2 linked regions of the Homo sapiens genome follow. The protein of the gene in region 2 interacts with the protein of the main gene of each other region in a pairwise test. Each region holds a gene or a part of one and is shown on either strand. Other genes may lie near its edges.

Region 1 (3,567 bases), on a different chromosome or scaffold from region 2:
ATGATGTAGTGTTTGCCAGGGACCTTCACTGAAAAGTTACTTTTCCCCCTCTCCACACTGCACTCTTTGGAGGAGTCACTGCAGCCCACGCCTAAGAAGTGGGGGTTCCATAGCCCTCCTTGAAGGCTGTCTACAGAAATTACTTATGATTTTGTGTAGATTTGCATATTCTCCCCATTTTGCCACTTAGCAATAGACTTATTTCACATTTTAGGTGAAAACCCAATATTATGCTATTTATTTTGTTGTTCAAATTCTTTTCAGCTTTGGCCACTGGAAGCTTTCTGTTGGCTCCTGTGTCCCTGTGACTTAAGCATATCAGTGCGTGCTTTCAGGCACTGCAAGATGCCCCAGGCTCATCTTGTACATTTCCTGCCCCAGGCCTGGAATAATCTTAGTACAGCACTATTTTTGAAAGTTTTCTGCAAGTCTGCAATTATTTCAAAATTTAAAGTATCTGAATGGCTACACTTTTTTGGAAAGGTACTGGACATTAAAATCCTGGGATGTAGACAAACAAAAGCACCAGCACAGTACAGATGGATAGCTAGTTTATTACAGGACTGCTGGTAGCACCAAACGAAACCAAGTCAATTCCTGTTAACGGGGCAGCTGAAGCGGTTGAGGGGTCTACCCCATGGAACCCCAGGAAGCAGCTGGAAAGCCTGAGTTCCCCCCATGCAGCAGCTAAAAGGGAATCGCACTGCCGCCCCCGACTCCACACAACCATCAGTGCACGAGGGCAGCCCCCAGAGGCTTCACATTAACTGGAAAAGATTACACAAAAAGAGCAGGAAACTACCAATTTATGATGCCGTGTCCATTTGCAGAGAGGTAATCAGCACCAAAATGAGTACTCAAGGCCCTGCGACCTCGGGTGAATTTCCTTTCTTATACTCCTGCTTTGCTGTCTTTTTTAATAGCATGTATCATGTTTTTTTTTTTTTTATTTTTAGAGACACAGTCTCATTGTCCCAGGCTGCAGTGCAGTGCCGCAATCATAGCTCACTGCAGCCTCAAACTCCTGGGCTCAAGTGATCTTCCCACCTCACCTCAGCCTTCCAAGTTAGCTGGGATTGCAGGCATGCACCACCATGCCCAGCTAATTTTTGTATTTTTTGTAGAGATGAAGGTCTCCCTATGATGCCCAGGCTGGTCTCGAACCCCTGGCCTCAAGAGACCCGCCCGCCTCGGCCTCCCAAATTGCTGGGATTACAGGCATGAGCCACTGTGCCCAGTCACTGTTCTTTATATACAAAAAAGAATGTGTGAAATTTTTAAAATGTACATTGCAAAAGACGATTATTCTACTCAAAATTTATTTGGTAAGATTTTATTAAGACTCTAAGTTCAAACACCCTTCTTGGGAAAAGCTCTACAGGATAACCACACATGCTCAACTACGGGGCCAGCTGCTGCAGCTGTGGGACCCCATCCTGTGGAAGAGGAGAGAGGCACTAAAAAGATGAGGTAGCCAGGCCTGTGCCCACACTACGAGACCTGCATCACCATGGTGTGAGGAGCAGCAACGTGGGTCAACTCGGGGCTGGGACGAGATGGAAGAGTAAAAGGCCTTTCTTCATAGGCCTGCCTATTTTATGACCACCAGGGTAGACTTTTGTAATTAAATTAAGGTCCACATGACTTTAGAAAGACAAACTAAAAAACCCCAACCAAACGAGTCCTAGCTGTAGCTAACTCTGATTTCTGTAAATTGGATCTGACTTTTTCTGCTTACATTCACTTAAAATCTCAAAGACTCAATGGGTGTGAAGTGCTAACACCTTGCGGCAAAATCTCAAATTCATCTGTGCCAGGCCCTCTGCACAGCAGGGCTCAGCAGGGCAGGCCAGGGCTCTGGTCCCTGGTCCCTTGCTGGGGGAGGTGTTCCATCCGGCCAGCGCCCGGCCATGCAGCCACGTGACTCAAGCACGGGAAGTGCAGGGGCCCAGACACATCCAGGCTAAAGGGCAGTGACTAGGGGAGGGCTGACCCCAAGCTGAACAGGGTTCTAACCAAACGCTCAGGAGCTCCCAGGTGACAGCAACCACGCCACCATGAACACACCACTGGGTCTGTACTGGAATTTGGGGGCCTCAAGGCTTCCAGGTGGCAGCATAAACAGGGAGGTGGGGCAGGATAGGAATGCCCCCCTCTGAGGCTCGGCAGCCGGGTGGAATGAACCACTCCCTCTCATTCAGTGACAGCACAGGCACCCTCCTCATTCTGGGCTACCCAGATCTTCCAGCCCTGTCCCTCCACCCCACCTCTCTTAGCCTAAGCAGCACTGAGGGCCTGGAGTGGTCTCTGTCCACCCCACCCCCACATGCGGGGAGCCTTCCCATACCCCTCAGCCCCACAGCACCAGCTCCACCCACCCTCTCCAGCCTGAGCTCCTGCACACACCCCAGCTGCCCTCACCCTGAGCTCAGTGCCCTCCTTGCTGAAGGGAACGGCTAGTACAGGAGGAGCTGGGGCCCAGGGGTCTGACTCCATCACCAAGGCAAAGCCCAGAGTGGTTGGGCTGGCGTGAGTGCAGGCTGGGCCCTGGTCTGAAATGAGTGTCTTTATTGCTTGTACCGTACAAATATGAAGACGAGGAGAAAGGCCAGTAGGGACGGAGAACTGTCAGATAACAACATCGCACACAGAGGAAAAAGACCCTCACCCACCCGAACCAACCCCACCCCTCCCCACCCTGCCATGAACTGTGTAGTACAGGAGATGGGATAGGGAGAGCAAACCCACAAAAGCTAAACTCCAAACACCCAGAGGTGTTGCTACAGGGAGGGGAGGCGTGGGCAGGGCAGCTCATGGATCACAGTGGGGCTCCTCCCACTAGGTCAGCACCCCTCCCCCACAGGATGAAATGCTCGGGCCAGGGATGGGGCCCAAGCCCACACACCATGCACACTGGAGGACACGCTGCCCTCACACAAACACACATGCACACACACCCACGTGTGCCTGCGTCCCGCCGACACACGCAGTCCGAGGCACGCACAGGAGTCCCACAGCACTGACATGGACGTGCACTCATGTTCAACCTTAAGGCTGCAGAACGTGGGGCCCTGGGGAGAGGGAGGGGTGAGGGGGGCCTAGGAGCCTCCCTTTTCAGAGGCCCCCCACCCCAATAGGTACCAGAGATGCCCACCCCCACCCCTCCCTGACCAAGTCCATGGGGCCCAATACTGTCCGGTGTAAGATTGTAACAGCCAAGGCTGGTGGCCCTCCACCCCCGCAGAGGAGAGGGTGAGCCCAGCCCATAGCCCCCAGTGGGGCCAGGCCAGGCCCAGGGTCCAGCGGGAGGTAAGGCCAGCTGGAAGGAAGCCCTAGTAAGGCACGGGGCTGGGAGGCAGGCAGGTTTGGCCCCAAATGTTCCTCCTGCCTCATCCATAGGGTGAGGACAGTTTGGTGGGGAGGAGGCCGGACCAGGAGGCGGCACCCAGCCCGGCCACTCCTGGTTCCCCATGGTACAGATCCTAGGATCTGACTCCATTCACCAGGGAGCAGCCCTAACCCCCAGCCCTGCAGCTCCCAAGGGCCCCTGCCTGCCCCTGGACATTA
Region 2 (6,863 bases):
GGCTCACATGATATTTCTTTTTTTGTGGTTTATTTTTGTTTTGTTTTTCAACTGAATACTCCACTTAAAAAGATTATCACACTGGATTTTTTAAAAAGTATTTACCACTAATAAGAGACACAAGAGACACATTTTAAATATTAGTATACAGAAAGGCTAAAAATAAAAGGATAAAAAATACACTATGCAACACTAAAAAGGCAGCTTAACTAATAAAGTTTAATATCTAATTTAGACAGTACAAACTGACATAAAACTCAAGACGAGGGCATGAAATCTTGAATAATAAAATTACATTATTAAGATTGGAATGTATCTTAGTAACTGATGCCCAGGGTGAATTGTTTCTTTCTCTCTTTCTTGCTTTAGTCAGAGATTTCAGTGCCTAAGAGGAATGAGTAATATTTAATGCATAGACAGAGGAGGAAGAGGAGTCCACAAAGGATTGTGGGAAGGGGGAAACAGGAATAAAGGCAATACAACAAAACCAACAAAAACTCATGAGAGTTTAGAGATTCAAGGAGAAAGATGAAGATAAGCACCAGGAAATAATCCACCGAAGGTAGAATTAGAAACCAGACCTCAGTGGGTTTGACTGGGGAAGGTGAAGGAGTAGTAATTGTAGCCCATTCTTTTAAGAAGTCTGGCTATTAAAGGAAGGATATAAGAGTACTGACTACAGGAAGATACGGGATTAAGAAGTAGCTTTCCTTTCTGAAAATGAGAGTAATTTAAGCATATGTTTATCCTAAAAGAACCAGGTGACAGGGAGAAGACCCAGAAAAGAGACAGAACATTTGATAAACAAGGTCTCTGAAGAAGCTGCAGCTTTGGATAGGAAGAGGACTTATTTCTTTGATATGGGAAGAGATGCAAAGTGATTAAGGTGGAGAAGTTTGTAACTAGTAGTAATAAGTAGATGAAGGTGTGGCCTGATAACTTGGTGGGAGGAGGGGAAGTAATTCATTTTTTTTGTATTTTACAAAAGCATCGGTCTGTGACAGACTGGGGGAAACGTTAACTGGTCCGATACCACGATTAGGTGAGAAGCATTACACTAGACCATCAAGGCTAGAGCATGCCACAAAAGATGGTGTAGGAGTGCAGATAGGAAAAAAGTCAAGGCAGACTAAGAACTATGATGCTATGGTCAGTTTGCCTGTTTAAGAAGAGAGGGCTGCATGAGTAGATGTTGGAATTCGAGATAAAGAGGTAATAGTGATGTGAAAGTATCAAGGATGCCAAAGTATCAAGGAAAGTGGGAGAAGGGCCAGAAAACAGGCAGTGACAGCAAGGAGAGCAGCAAGAGGGTGGTACTGACAGTGATTATTAATCTTGATCAAGTAGAGACAATTTGCTACAAAGAACAGAAAATTAGGTCCCATTCCTAGTGAGTAGATTCTTCATCTGATTTTACTAGAAAGAATATCTCATCCAGCCAGAAACCGCATACTCTGGCTGAGATCACTGGATTACAGAAATCTTTCCCCAACTGCAAGTTTCCATCATGCAAAATTTTAGCACACATACCTTTTCAGCAACTGTGCGCATTTCAGTTCCAGTATATGCAAATTTGGAGTCACTCCTACTGGGAATAAATTAGAAAAAAAAAAAGGAAGTGGGGTTTGGAATATAAAAAGGAATTAAAGCAAAATAACAGGATTAACTGTTTTTGCAATGAAATCTTAGCAGAGACCAAAGAAGAGGAGGGAAACTGAATTGAGGCTAGAGCTGCACTCTATCTGTTAGAAGCAATCTGGGACACATGCACAAGTGGCTGAGTGTATAAAGTTATAATGGACAAAGCTAAATTCCTGGAATCCTGGGAACTAAGGAGGTGGGCTTGAGAAGTATACTATGGTATGATTTGAAGTTTAAATTAAAATGTTACCGAAAGGTTTCACCACGTCAAGTATTGAAGCTACTGGGGATCTCTGAGATCACTGAGGTCCATCAGGAGGAAAGGCAATGTCACTGTCAATTTACGTGAAGGAATGGATCAATGGGGAAATGCCTCTAAACGTATATGCTCTCTGTCACTAAGAAAATTACTGATATCTCACTGGCATTTAAGGGGAGACAGAACATGAAATACACTGAGCAAGGCCAGGTGTGGTGGCTCACGCCTGAAATTCCAGCACTTGGGGAGGTCGAGGTGGGCAGACTGCTTGAGCCAGGAGTTCGAGACCAGCCTGGCCAACATGGTGAAACCCCGTCTGTACAAAAAAAAAAGACAGCCGGGTGTGGTGGCGGGCACCTGTAATCTCAGCTATTCGGGAGTCTGAAGTATGAGAATCGCTTGAACCTGGGAGGCGGAGGTTGCAGTGAGCAGAGATCGCGCCACTGCACTCCAGCCTGGGCGACAGAGTGAGGCTCTGTCTCACCCCTAAAACGCAACAATTATGATAATGCTTATTAAGATGTTTATCCCATATCTCAACTGAATAGGAGGTAAGGCAGAAACCAAAGTTCAAGGTTGTATCATTAAGGGAGCCCCGGAGTGATAATGGTAATTAATTTAAGACACGATCCGGACACAATACTGCCAAAGTCGCCATAATTTTAGGTTAACAATGACTTAGAGATTATAAGATATGAGTAAACAAATACAGTCTTACCTTGTATCATCGTTCAACTAGAGTGGGAAAAAGCAAAAAACATTATTGATCACATTACGTTTGTTTGACATATATGGATGCAGATTATATGACAATTAGGTCATGTGTTCACGCACATGGTATGAAAGACTGGAGAATTACTTTAGACTGTAAACAGCTAAACTGTATTTCCTCATCCTCTTCGGCCCCTCCTCAACACAATGCAGCGGAAACTTTTGCTTCCTTCAAGCCCCGCACCTTCTGTTAGGCTCTTCGATACCCTTCAAATGCTTTGGTTGATATCTCTGCTCCCTAGACAGAAGACTCGAGGCGAGGCAAGGGGCTCTAACTGTGGTCAGCTGCTGCGTCGTAATACCCGGACATCCTCATTATACTCCAGTGTCTTTCTGACCTGCCTTGCAGTTTTGGTCAACCGGGCGAAAAGCGCAGATCTAAAGAGAAGCCCCAGGCTACAGGAGAAAGGGCAAGGCTCCCGGGGCCTGTACAGACCGCCGGGGGCTCGCAGGAGACTAAACAAGTGTCAGGCGGCCAGAAGAAACGGGGCTCCCCGCGACAGAGCTATGTAAAGGGTGTCCAAGGACCTAAATCGAGGATGCCTGTGGCCTCCGCAGCCCTGGGAGCTGCCGGCACCCACCCCGGGGACACACTGGGACTGCTCAGCAGGGTTCCATCCAGGCTAACAGACCTACTCACCTCCCCTATGCACAGCCCCATTACTTCCTCCTTCTCTGTGCTCAGAGCGTGGTTGAGACAAACGAGGAAAGCGTCAGACTCGAGATGAACCGCCTGCACCGCCTGCACCACCTGCACCGCCATCTTGGCCCGACCCTTCTCACGTCCGCCTCGGGCCCACTTGGTCCTGACCAACCGGGTGCTGCGGCGCAGCCTCCCCAGCGCCCAGCGCTGTGCGCTCCGCCCAGGCCTGGCCTTCGGCGCGCGGGTTCCTAGGGGGCGGGGCTTAGGGAGCGGGCGGGGCTGTGGGGGCGGGGCTGTGGGGGCGAGGAGGGGGCAGCGGGCGCGCGGCTGGCGCGCGGGGGCGGGCCTTGGGGCACGGGGGCGGGGCCCGCCCAGCAGCACCTGGGAAACGCCCGCGCGGTTTGGGGCAGGCGTGGCCGTCGGGGCGGAGGGCGGTGGCCGGCCGCGGTCCGGGCGTCAGGCCGGGCGGCGGGGGCGGCAGGGAGGCGGCGCTCTGGGGCCGCAGGCGGACGTACTCTGTGAGCGGCGCCCGGGCGCCTGGGCAGGCGCCTCCCGAGTACCGGCGCCCATTTTGCCCGCCCGCTAAGGAGACCCGTGCGCGGCCTACACGCTTGGGGGACAGCCCTTTAAGACGACATCTCCGCGAACGCCGGCCTCTTGAGCCAGGGGGACGCTCTTTTGAAAGTCAGTCCCAAAACAGTTAAGGTTTTATTTTATTTTGTTTTATTTCCAAGTCACAGCCCCCGAATCTCGTACAACTCTCCCTGGACCACTTCCGGTTGCCGGCCCGCGCCTCATAACTTCGGTTCGAGTGACCTCGGCCCGGGATGCCCCTCGGCTCACCCCGGGCTCACGTCGCGATCCTGGCTTGAGTGGCCCAGGGTGGGAGACCTGGAAGTTTTAGCCTAGCTGTTCTCAAGGCGGATTAATTAGCCCAAGAAACATTATATTCATGTGAGTAACCTTTTGCAGAAACAGTGTTATACTGTATCTGAAAAAGTATCACTCTTAAGCTTGGCTGCTGCTACTTTCTACAAAGGCTTTTAGGTAGCTATTTGTTGGATACAGGGAAGGGGAAATGGAGAACTTCAGTTTTTATTCAAGTTCGGATGTATCACATTAGGTATCCAGAATGCAAGTTTCCTCGGGTCTCCTTGTCTCGATGATATCAGACAGTAAAAATATATGTAAAAGTAATTTTTATTTCGAGGTATGTCAAACGTGCCAAGGATAAAAGTACAGATCTTCCAACTCACAAGTCTAGGAATCACACGTGGATTTTGAAAGCGATTCTAAATCAAAGCACAATATATGCCGTGCCGCCTCCACAGCCCGTCCGTGTTCGTGTCTTTGATTTGGTTTTCTACTTTGTGTAGTTTTGAAGCCAGGCAGGTATGGCAGTACTGGAAAGGGAACATTCCCAAGGTGCTACTTGAAGTGTTGATGCTTTGCTCTTTTCTCCCAAGTCAGTTCCAACCCAAGTCTCCCCACACATAGGGTCCCCATCCAGTGCAACGATCTGTAATGTGCACGCCAGCAGCCTCCGTTTTTACCTAACGATCTGTAAGGATCACATGGCACATCTTTCTATAATTAATTTGATCATGATGAAGGTTGGAAAATTTTCGTGTGCAGTTACATTGGACCTGTCTAAATTTTCTCTTGTTTCAATTTTATATCATATGTTATTTTCAGTTACTGTTTGTGGCTAGTATGCCCCGTCCTCATGGAGCAGGAACGGCTGTTCTTATTATTATGACATTAACATTTGGTGATGGGATATAGTGCCTTTAGGCACTTTCAAGAAGAAAAATACCTTTTGTTTGTTATCGGCGGTAGTCAATCTCATATTCCAGAATGAGGTTCACTAACTTTTCTAATGCTCATGGCTGCCTTTTACAGCTCCAGGCATTTAACTGGAGTAGAACAAAATTATTAACATTTATGGCAAGCTTATTATATGCTAGATACTAAGCATTTATATGCCTGGTACATGTAAACTGCCCCATTTGGAGTCAAGCTCAACAACTTCCCCACTGTGTGACCTTGAGCAAGTTACCTAACTTCTCTGTGCCTTTCTTTTCCTCACCTTTAAGTGGGGATGATAATAATTCTGCCCACCTCATAGCGCCCTATGAAGATTGTGAAAATTAAATGAGTCAATATATGTAAACATATAGGAAATGCTAAATAAAGACTATCATGATTAATATGTTCTTTAATTCTCATTTTACACCTCAGGAAACTGAGGTGGAGAGACGTTAACTTGTCCAAGGTCACAAAGCTAGTAAGTGACAGACTCAGGACTCATACACAGGCCTGGGCCTGTGTTCTTGGTAATTTCACTCATTGTAATTGGACGAGTTTATTAATTGACTTCTAATAAAATAAGTGTATTCAACTGATCAATGTTTAAAAACTGTTCATCAACCTGGCAATTAAAGCAAACTATACTTTTTTAAAAAAGACACAAAAGAATTTATTCTGTAAAGGAAAAATGATAGTTTTACTTAGATTACTACCTAAGGAAGCCCTTCTATCTTATATGTCATCCATTTAAAACCTAATTTACAAAATGCCTTACTAAGAAATTGTCTGTCTTGGCCAGTGTGCTCTCTGGCCCCGAAATCAAGGTGACCCTCATGGGGACAATCTCTTCTAGTGGATGATAAAGTTATGCAGTTATCTAAACATTTTTGGAATTCATTTGTATTTGTAGCTGGCAGTATTCCTTGAGTTGAGTTGCACAAGTTTATATTCCATGTATTGTATTGCACCTTGTACCTAAGTCTATGTTGAGGTTTTAAAAGATTCGTCTTAGTTCGAGAAGTCCTGAATTTTGTAAACAAGTATCATGTGCAAATAAAATGTTCTCTAGTCAAATAAATTTGGGAAATGTTAACATAAAGTTTCTTTACTGCATAACTTGCCAGAACAGTTACTACACTAATGTGCTTTATGACTCTCCAAGATTCCCAAACTTATTTGACCAAGGAAAATGTTGGGAGCAAGTTTTCTAAGAATCACATTTTTCCACTCATAAAACCTGTGATTGTATAGGCTTTGATCTGAATCCCTCTCCCTCAGCCTTTGCATTTCTCTGCTGAGGACTTTGTTCATGCTCATATGGTGACTTCTCTGTCCCTTGATCACTGCAGTTGTCTTTCTCTGGGCCTGCATGCCCTCTGAATGCTAGCACACACAATTCCAGGATACTGTGCTGAGAGGTGGTTCCCAAGCTCATCCCGCTGATGCCCAGCATGTTGACCTTTGGGTCACAGCAGCACATCACACTGCCTTTCTTCTGAGAATATTTTGTAGTGACTCATAGGCCTCTTTGTAGTGACTCAGTAACTCAGACCATCATCTCCAAACTCTTTGCCCTCTATTCCACTGGCATTATTTCCTTTTAATGTCAATATAACCAATGCAATTTTGTTTTCCATTCAAAACAAATTTAAATGTCAACATGTTGGTTGTTGCTAGGACCTATCTATGAAATTGAGATGGTCCTGAAACCCTTAACACATGGTTTCCACTTTTTTAAAA

The links. The genes of interacting proteins can lie anywhere in the genome.
Region 1: the proteins of MTCP1 (region 2) and AKT2 interact in a two-hybrid assay, tested with the Homo sapiens proteins (one study listed by BioGRID).

What each region holds. Positions count from the first base shown.
Region 1 is NC_000019.10:40,229,783-40,233,349, forward strand, and holds the end of AKT2 (RAC-beta serine/threonine-protein kinase), read right to left. Parts: 3' UTR 535-3,567; downstream 1-534. UniProt on the Homo sapiens protein: Serine/threonine kinase closely related to AKT1 and AKT3. All 3 enzymes, AKT1, AKT2 and AKT3, are collectively known as AKT kinase.
Region 2 is NC_000023.11:155,068,099-155,074,961, reverse strand, and holds the start of MTCP1 (protein p13 MTCP-1), read left to right. Parts: upstream 1-3,825; 5' UTR 3,826-4,268; intron 4,269-6,863. Other genes in the region: BRCC3 (lys-63-specific deubiquitinase BRCC36), read right to left, coding at 1,531-1,588, 2,619-2,635, 3,312-3,434. UniProt on the Homo sapiens protein: Enhances the phosphorylation and activation of AKT1 and AKT2.